Linked DNA regions of Homo sapiens: region 1 is linked to region 2. The links come from fine-mapping of genetic effects on gene expression. A gene starts in region 2. The other region holds a variant in brackets. All regions are shown on one strand. Distances are from middle to middle. Region 1 holds the start of TRIM21 (tripartite motif containing 21). Region 2 holds the start of OR52K1 (olfactory receptor family 52 subfamily K member 1).

Region 1 (5,393 bases), 89 kb after region 2:
AGGAAACAATGGGTGATAGACAGGATATGGAGAAACAGGAGCACTTTTACACTGTTGGTGGGACTGTCAACGAGTTCATCCATTGTGGAAGACAGTATGGTGATTCCTCAAGGATCTAGAACTAGAAATACCATTTGACCCAGCCATCCCATTACTGGGTATATATCCAAAAGATTATAAATCATACTGATATAAAGACACATGCACACATATGTTTATTGTGGCACTATTCACAATAGCAAAGACTTGGAACCAACCCAAATGTCCAACAATGATAGACTGGATGAAGAAAATGTGGCACATATACACCATGGAATGCTATGCAGCCATAAAAAAGGATGAGCTCATGTCCTTTGTAGGGACATGGATGAAAGTGGAAACCATCATTCTCAGAAAACTATTGCAAGGACAAGAAAACCAAACACCGCATGTTCTCACTCATAGGTGGGAATTGAACAATGAGAACACATGGACACAGGAAGGGGAACATCACACACTGAGGCCTGTCCTGGGGTGGGGGGAGGGGGGAGGGATAGCATCAGGAGATATATCCAATGTAAATGAGTTAATGGGTGCAGCACACCAACATGGCACGTGTATACATATGTAACAAACCTGCATGTTGTGCACATGTACCCTAGAACTTAAAGTATAATTTAAAAAAAAATCTAAGGCCTCAAACTATGAAACTACTACAAGAAAATATTGGGGAAACTCTCCAGGACATTGGACTGGGCAAAAATTTCTTTCAAATATTCCATAAGCACAGGCAACCAAAGCAAAACTGGACAAATGAGATCACATCAAGTTAAAAAGCTTCTGCACAGCAAAGGAAACAATGAAGTAGAGAGATAACCCACAGAATTGGAGTAAATATTTGCAAACTATCCATCTGACAAGGGATTAATAACCAGAATATACAAAGAACTCAAACAACTCTATAGGAAAAAAATATAATAATCTGATTCAAAAATGGACAAACGATCTGAATAGACATTCCTCAGAAGAAGACATACAAGTGGCAAATGGATATATGAAAATGTGTTCAACACCACTGATCATCAGAGAAATGCAAATCAAAACTACGAGATATTATCTCACCTCAGTTAAAATGTCTTTTAACCAAAAGAAAGGCAATAACAAATGCTGGCAAGGATATGTAGAAAAGGGAACCCTCATACACTGTCAATGGGAATGGAAATTAGTACAAACACTATGGCAAACAATTTGAAGGTTCCTCAAAAAAAAAAAAAAACCTGAAAATAGAGCTACCATGTAATCTAGCAATCCTACTGGATACTGCTAGGTATATACCCAGAAGAAATACTGTTAGGTATATATCCAAGAGAAAGGAAATCAGTATATCAAAGAGATATCTGCACTCCCATGTTTATCGCAGCACTATTCACAATAGCCAAGATTTGGAAGCAACGTAAGTGTCCATCAACAGATAAATGGATAAGGAAAGTGTGGTACACATACACAATGGAGCACTATTCAGCCATAAAAAGAAGGAGAACCTTTCATTTGCTACAAGATGGATGGAATTGGGGATTATTATGTTAAGTAAAATAAACCAAACACAGGCAAACAAACAAATTGTTATGTTCTCACTTATTTGTGGGAGTTAAAAATTAAAACAATCCAACTCATGAAGATAGAGAGGATGATGGTTACCAAAGGCTGGGAAGGGTAGTGGGGAATGATTAATGGGTTCAAAAATACATGAGAGAGAATGAATAAGATCTAGTATTTTATAGCATAACAAGGTGAATACAGTCAATGATAATTTATCATTTTAAAATAACTAAAAGCATATAACTGGATTGTATATAACACAAATGATAAGTGCTTGAGGTGATGGATAGATACCCCACTTACCCTGATATGATTATTACGGATTGTATGCTCTACCTGTATCAAAATATTTCATGTACCCCACAAATATATACACCTACTATAGACACACAAGATTGAAAATTAAAAAAATTACTTTGGTAAATTTTATGTTCTATATTTTTACGATTAAAAATAAAAATAATATAACCTGAGAATGTCCCTAGCTCAGTGACAAGAACACAGTTGGTTGTCAAATGTCAATTTCCTTCTCACCACTCACTGGTGGGACACTCACCTTGGGGTCATGCGAAATAAATCACTCACCTGCAGGCGTTAAAAAATATTAGTCACATCAGTCACATGAAAATAATTAGCTTCTGGAAGTAAGCAGATGGTGGCACGCGAGGAAGAGCACCGGCCACTCTTCTCTGCATCAAAACTTCCTTAAAAGCA[T/G]CTTCCAGACATGGACATAGCGTCTAGGTGTGGAGTGATGACCAGTGTCAAAGAAAGCAGCCCGGACTCCCCCGTCTTGTAGATATTTTACCAAATCAGATAATGAAGACATGGGAGGGAGCGCGCAACCAGGACCACGGGCTACTGAGTTTCCACTCCTTCCCAGTCTCAGAGAAGCCTCCTGGGCATGCAGAGCCTCTGAAGCCTCCCCCAGCTCAACTCTGACTTCTCTTCTCAGCCGCATTTCTCCACACACCCTTTCAAGGCTCTGCTCCTCCCACTGCTCCTCCCTCACTCCTCCCACGGCTCCTCCTCCTCCCTCCCCTTTCCTCTCAGACTTGCTTCTGAGCGGAAACTGAAAGTGAAATAGGGAGCTGGCTACCAGCGTTGAGTCCCCTGTAAAGGTGAGTGAACCCCACTAGATCAAGGGACCCCTGCCCTCCTAGGGGACCTCTCTCCCCTGCCCCAGGGTTGCAGAGCCCCTTCCAGTCTCCATCCTTGAGCCGGTCCCATTTGCCCCTTCTCCCACCAGGGATCCCTCAACCCAAGACCAGCTGCGCTTCCGGTGCTGGCCCCCTGCTTGGGAGGAGGCTGGGGTGTGGACCTGACTGCCGAGTTACCCAGAAGGGGAAGGGGCCCGGCTGCCCCCTACCTGGGAGGAGGCTGGGTTGTGGACGTGACTGTGGAGTTACCCAGAAGGGGAAGGGGCCCGGCTGCCCCCATGCTGGCACCTGACCTAGGATGACGGCTGGGTGTGGCTGGGATAGCCAGGACTACAGCCTAGCCAGGAGGGTAGGGAGCCCAGTGTCGGGGAGGTCTGCAATTCTGGAGACTCCCAGGTCCAAAAGTCCTCCAGAGGTGAGAGGGGCAGGCTGTTTAGGATGTTCAACCAGAAATGTATAGGCCTTCAGAATTATTCTTTGTCCTAGAATAAGTGTTGTCAGGAACTAAACTAAGTTTGGAGCAGCTGAGAAAAGAGCCCAGGGAGTGCTGGCCACGGTTCCTGTTACTCTGTGTGTATACATACATATACACCTACATACATATATGCAACTGACTTCCGCCGTTATAGGAGGGATTAATGAAGATATATTCAAAGCATGAAGTATCTCTGGCACATGGAAGGTACATGGTAAAAAGTAGCTATAATTTCTCAGCAACATGGAGGCCTGTTGGTACCCGACAGGAGATGGATGAGCACTGAGGGTTTAAGCAGGAATGGACATGATGAGAGTAGAACTGTCAACAGCTTTATGAGGTTCTTGCCAATTTTCATTCCCTCTTTTAGGGACTCAGTTTCTCCTTCTGTCTCACTGGATCAATGGACCAAACAATGGAGGAGTTCTTGTTATTCAGAACAGGAATAAACTTATTCAACAAACTGTTTGATCGGTGCAAAAGTAATTACTGTTTTTGACATTAATTGTTTTGCCATTAATTTTATGCCTTGTTTTGTTTTGTTTTGTTTTTGAGAGGGAGTCTCGCCGTGTCACCCAGGCTGGAGTGCAATGGCACAATCTTGGCTCACTGCAACCTCTGCCTCCCAGGTTCAAGCAATTCTCCTGCCTCAGCCTCCCAAGTAGCTGGGATTACAGGTGCCCACCACCACTCCCAGCTAATTTTTGTATTTTTAGTAGAGACAGGGTTTTACCATATTGGTCAGGCTGGTCTTGAACTCCTGACCTAAGGTGATCCACCCACCTCGGCCTCCCAAAGTGCTGGGATTACAGGTGTGAGCCACCGTGCCTGACCCATTATTTTTATTCTTATTTTTTATTTTCCTTTGCATCATTTTGTTTTTCTTTTTTTAGTATATTTTTAATTTTTGTGGGCACATAGTAGGTATATTTATGGGTATATGGAATATTGTGATACAGGTATACAATGTGTAATAATCACATCAGGGTAAGTGGGGCATCTATCACCTCAAGCATTGATCATCTGTAATACAAACTATGCAATTATACTCTTATTTTTAATGTACAATTAAATTATTGACTATAGTCACCCTGTTGTACTATCAAATACTAGATCTAATTCACTCCACTTTTGTACCCATTAACCATCCCATCTTCTCCCCCACACACAGACCCTCCCTATTACTCTTCCCAGCCTCTGGTAACCATCTTTCTATTATCTAACTCCATGAGTTCAATTGTTTTAATTTTTAGCTTCTACAAATGAGTGAGACCATACAATGTTTGTGTTTCTGTGCCTGGCTTATTTCACCTAACATAATGACCTCCAGTTCCATTCATGTTGTTGTGAATGACAGGATCTCATTATATTTTATGACTGAACAGTACTCCATTGTGTATACATACCACATTTTCTTTATCCATATATCTGTTGATGGACTCTTAGATTGCTTCCAAATCTTGGCTATTGTGAAACGTGCTGCAGTAAACATGGAAGTGTGGATATCTCTTTGATATACTGATTTCCTTTCTTTGGGGTATATGCTAGCAGTGGGATTGATGGATCATATGGTAGCTCTATCTTCAGTATTTTGAAGAACCTCCAAACTGTTCTCTGTAGTGATTGTACTAATTTACCTTCCCACCAACAGCATATGAGTGTACCCTTTTCTCCACACCCTCACCAGCATTTGTTATAGCCTGTCTTTTGGAGAAAAGACATTTTAACTGAGATGAGATTATATCTCATTGTAGTTTTGATTTGCATTTTTCTGATAATCAATGATGTTGAGCAACTGTTCATATGCCTGTTTGTCATTTGTATGACTTCTTTTGAGAAATGTCTGTTCAGATCTTTTGTCCATTTTTGAGTCAGATTATTATTTTTTTTCCTATAGAGTTGTTTGAGCTCCTTATATATTCTGGTTATTCATCCCTTGTCAGATGGATAGTTTACAAATATTTACTCCAATTCTGTGGGCTGTCTCTTCACTTTGTGGATTGTTTCTTTTGCTGTGCAGCACCTTTTCAACATGATGTGATCCCATTTGTCCAAGTTTGCTTTGGCTGCCTGTGCTTGTGGGATATTTGAAAGAAATCTTTGCCCAGTCCAATGTCCTAGAGAGTTTTCCCAATGTTTTCTTATAATAGTTTCATAGTTTGAGGCCTTAGATTTAAGTCTTT
Region 2 (5,393 bases):
ACTGATGAGTCAAAGAACTTGAAAACACAATTGGCCTTGTGTTTAGAATTGCACAAGAGGATTGGATACCTTGATAAAAGCAATTTTGCTAGAAGAGAGACAGGCAAAGCCTGACTTGACTGAGTTAGAATAGATAAGAGGGGAATTGAAGTTTGTTAACATGGCTAACTTTTTTGAGGAATTTGGAAGCAAAGGACAGCAAGTAAATAGGGCACTGGCTAAAATGGAAAGCGAAGTCAACTGTGTGTGTGTGTGTGTGTGTGTGTGTGTGTGTGTGTCTGTGTGTTTTAGAACAGAAGTATCATGTCTTTAGCTGAAGCAAATTATCCAGTAGTAGGGGAAAAGTTGAAACTTAGACGAAGAAAGAGAATACTGCTCCTGAAAAGACCGTGAATATTGCATCTTTCTAGGTGGTCTGCTGGTTGATCATTGAGAATATAAACATATCCTGAAACAAACACAAATTTACATACCTTACATTCCTTGTAAGCTCCAGACTAGGATATCCAACTCCATACTCGATATCCCCACATATCTTCCTCACAGATATGTCAAACCTGCCATGCCTGAGGCAGAAATCATGACTACTTCTCTTCTTGTGCTGCCCATATCTCAGAACGTAACATCCTGCCCAACCAGTTGCTCAACCTAGAATCAAGTCATCCTGGATTCTTCTCTTTTCTTCCTGCATCATATTTAATCATCAGCAAGCACACTGGATCATCCTACATAGTAAATCTCCACGTTGCCCATTGCGTTTCCAACACTTCCACCCTTCCAACACCATCACCCTTGTTCAAGCCACAGCATCTCCCAGCAACTACTGCTACAAAAGAATCCTAACAAGTACACAAAGTTCCACTTTGTTCTCCAATATTTATCCTTCAACAATTACCCACCATATCATGAAGTGAAGGGACTGGAGTTAAGAAACTCTACCTATTTTCCTTCTGTAAACCCAGCCTCTAACATACATAGGTGTGGAACATTTCACTAAATAAAACAGACTACTAGATTATTGGAAGACATATTTCTCAGAATACTACTCCCCTCATGTGATTTAAGCTCAGAATTTGGGTTATCTTCTCATTTAAAATGCATCCAGAATGGAGGTTCTAAGCATCCCGATTACAATACTTTGTTACCTGCATCAGAATAAAATTCTCTTCTTAATGGAAAATACTATTTTAAATATTCATAATGTTTGTGCATTTTTGTCAGGAACAAGCTCTTATGACAACAGACATTTTTATTTTCAAGTACATATCAGTACCTAGAAACATGCCTGGCGTCTAAGAAACTCTTCTAAAATACTGTGAAATAATCCCACAAACCTGCTGCATCTTTACCTTATCTCAATATGTATTTTCCACAAAACCCACATGTTTTACTTTGAGTCTCCATGTCCCCCTAGATTCCTCCATTCAACTTTTAAACATCACTAACCACCCTGTGAGCTGTCTACCCATCTTCATACAAGAAAAAAAGGCATCTCTTCTATCAGATTTCTTCCTGAAAAGACAGGGTGTCTAATAGTTCATAAATCTTACTTCCTTTGAAGTTCATCTAAAATCAACTCCTCAGAATGAAGTGCTCTGAGTAGGAGTGTGAATGGAGCCAGTCTTCTTCCCCTAATATCCAGAAACTAAGACCTCCTCTGTAGTGCAAGTTTTGTCCAGACTGTTCATTGTTTTCAGAACTAAGATGTCCATGCTCAAAGGATTTATCTTCTATTTCTCCTTAAAAAAGGCCTCTGTACCCAGAATGGACTCAATTAATACTGAATCTATTTGGTTGCCTATACCTTTATCTTAAAAGGATATCAGAATGACATATCTGAAAAACTTAGAACCAGACAAGGAAGGATAATCACATAATCAAGATACTTCAGGACTGCTTCTGGTAGAAGAACCTCAAAGATAAGGTATTTCTTACCTTTCCCTGCCATCTTTCTAGTTCAGGCCTCGTTTTCTTCCTCTTGACTAATGCAGAAGCCCTTTAACTGGGATGGGGCATTTGCCAGGGGTTAGAAAAAGCAATGACAGGAGGTGAGAAGTGACAGATCCAAACTGGAATAATCAACTAAGACTTCTTGGAGATGGCCCACAGTGTTTGGCATAGGACGGAAGCAGGCATCCTCTGTGGTGGGGAGAGCATCTGGAGTTTGTGTACCAAACAGTTGGGTGGGACTATCGAGACTTCTGTTCCCTCTATTGAAGGACCAGAGTAGAAGCAATAACAGGGTTGGAGAGCTGATGCCTAAGATCAGGAATGGCTATGGGAAGAAATTGACAGTGCCCCCACCTTCCAGCTCACTCCCACCTTCCTGCTCACCCCAATAACATCACTTGTTTTCTATTTCCCTAAGTTGCAGCTGTATCCACAGTCCTCAGTCTGACTTACAATCCTGGGCCCTTTTCATTAGCTTCATGCAGCACCAGTGCCGCCTTCCTCTTTCAGTCTAAGGAGTCTTAGAAGGAGGAAGCTGGGAAGCGAGCAGCTGGCTTTAATCCTCACCAACCTCTGCCCTTCTCCCAGAAGGCTGTGGAAGCAGAAACTGCTGCACTTGAGCAGAGTCCTCAGAGACATCTCTGGCCTCCTCTCTCTGGGTTGATGCAAGGGGACTTCCCCTGACCCAAGGGGACTGTATCCTTGTTTCCTACAACCCATGCCTCCTCCCCAGCTAGTGGCACTGAGTTGTGCCTACCAGGGGTCATGCCCTACTTGCCAGAGGCTGTGAGACTTTCAGGTGGAGCTGGCTTGTGTCTTGGTGTTTGCTGTGCCTCTCCTTACTCTTTATCCTTACAGTGTCTTCAAAGAAAGCCAGCCTCATCAGAAAATATACACTGCAGGCAACTCCTGTCAGAACTGACTTGAAAGGGCAGGGAGTCCAGCCTGACCAGGCCAAGGTCATCCATTAGGCATTTTATTTTGCATTCATATTTCATATTGGCCTGAGATATGCATTAATAACCAGCTCGTGAACTTGATCTGGCACCTGTCTGATCCCTGATCTATTTTTCTTATCTCTAAGGTAGAGATAACTTTTACAATATTTTCTAACTCACAAGGATAGGAGGATCTAAGTAGATAAACAAGAGGCCACTATGAATGTGATTCCTTATTAATAATTAGGAAATTACCAATCATCTATAAATGATAAAGAGTGATCTTTCTACCTACAGCTGACTTAATGTGTGCTATTTTTCAAGGACCTGAGAAGATGCTTTTCACTAGAGTTCTCCATGGATTTTGTCTACCCTAATTCCCCATAATTTTTAAAAGCAATCTCAGAACGCTGTAACTCAGTCATCTCACTCCCTTCCCACACAGGTACCCTGGAACTAACTTCCCCTTCTGTAATAGTTGGCCCTCAAGGGTGTGGACTCAGCACTCCTCCATGATAAGTCTGATCTTTTGGGATGCTGGGATAAAGTGGAATTCCTACATAGTTTTAACAATGTACAGCTAGGCCAAGGGGATACAGCCTGTATGAAAAGCACCTCACCAAAACCTAATATGGCAAAAGCCAGATAAAAGCCAGACAAGAGCCAGATAGAATAGACAGTGTTTTTGTGAACAAAGCACCTTAATTTGCCCCCAACTCCATTCTGAATGGGCAATCCTGACATCATAGGAGCAGGATAAGAAGCACATGGAGTGGGGGAGTGGGCAGTGGGGCCATTGGCTCAAACCATGCTGGAGATAACTGCTGGAATATTGGAACACTTAGACTGTTTAATTCATTGACATCCTCCCCACCCTATCTTTTCTTTTGTAAAATCTAGATTCTTTTACATTCATATGCATCTTTGTTTTGGTGTTCTTCATTCCCTCCAGGTTTTTCATGTTTCCATCTGGATCATTTTTTTTCTGCATGAAAAACTACTTTTATTTTTGCTTTTATTACAGGCCATATAGTGACACATTCCATCAACTTTTGCTCATTTGTAAAATTATCTTAGTCATCTTTGTTTGTGAAAGATGACTCACCTCCCGGGCCTCTGTCTAAAATTCTATTTCAATTTGAATAGGTTTTTAAATGGGCAATTCTTCTTTCATCCACTTTAGTATATTAATTGTATTCTGCCTTCACTTGCTTTTTTTGAAGTCAAGTATCTATTAATATCAGTCTTATTGTTGATCCTGTGAATATAATGTGCCCTACCCATACCTGGGTGCTGCTTTCTTTTTTTTTTTTTCCAGTTAGCTGTGATCACACAGAACATTGTAGGCCTTTGTATCAGTCTGTTCTCACACTGCTATGAAGAACTACCTGAGACTGGGTACTTTTATGGAGAAAAGAGGTTTGACTGACTCACAGTTCCTGCAGGCTGTACAGAAGCATGGCTGGGAGGCCTCAGGAAACTTAGTCATGGCAGAAGATGAAGGGGAAGCAAGCAGGTCTTACCACAGCGGAGCAGGAAAAAGGGAATGGGGGCGGGGCCATACGCTTTTAAACAGAACATCAAGGGGGAAATCTGCCCCCATGATCCTATCACCTCTCACCAGGTCCCCTCTTCTGACATGTGGGGATTACAATTCGAGAGGAGATTTGGGTGTGGACACAGAGCCAAACCATATCAGCCATGTAAGGATTTCACTTTGCAAAGGTTCATAATTTCTCTCGGAATAAAAGCCAAGGTTGAGCAGTGAATTGACATTATTTGACATATGTTTTTTAGATATTGCTTCTGACTTAATGGGAACAGCACAAGATGATGAGGATGAAAGCAGAGAAAGGATTACAGATGCTATTGTAGGCATCCAGAGAGAAGATGGTGTTTCCAAATCAATGTGTTAATCATATATATGGAGAGAAATCAGATGTATCAGATTTTATATCTATTTTTTAAGTGCCAGTGGGAATTCCTGAAAAATTAGCTCCAGGCTGTGAGAGAAAAAGAAATCAAAGATAACACCAAGACTCCTTGCTTGAGGAACACGTAGGTGGGAAGGTGTTGTGAGGGTTGCTAGGCAGAACAGGATCCTATACTCAAGCATTGATCCTACTTTAAGGATGATGTGCACCTCTGTGTCCTAGCTTGGAATGTTGGGATGACCTAGTTTTTGAGTGATTAGAAGTATTGCATCTAGGCCTAGATAACTGCATCAAGTTTCCTTTATCCTAATCTATATACCCATCTATATGGGTATAAAATTATATGTGCCTGTAGGCTACTCATATTTCTTATTCATGTTTTGATTGTGTGCTAAACTCAAATGAGCTCATAGAGAAGGTAATTTTCCTTTTACTATTTGTGACTAATCCTGGCTGTGCTAATGTTATGTTGATATATTACCTGTCTATGGGATCCTTATACTACTGGACTTGTTCTGGGAACAAAATTATTTCTTCACTGGGGATAGATATGACCTTAAGGATGATGTTA

Evidence for each region.
Region 1: its variant is fine-mapped to the expression of OR52K1 in whole blood (TOPMed, PIP 0.95).

The regions. Positions count from the first base shown.
Region 1 is chr11:4,390,936-4,396,328 of GRCh38, reverse strand. It overlaps TRIM21 (tripartite motif containing 21), which reads left to right and starts at 2,627. Exons shown (of 7, transcript NM_003141.4): 1 at 2,627-2,696. RefSeq lists enhancers at 2,447-2,506, 2,527-2,736. The variant T/G (reference allele first, on the strand shown) is at 2,293.
Region 2 is chr11:4,479,719-4,485,111 of GRCh38, reverse strand. OR52K1 (olfactory receptor family 52 subfamily K member 1) reads right to left here and starts at 2,466. Exons shown (of 2, transcript NM_001005171.3): 1 at 1,936-2,466.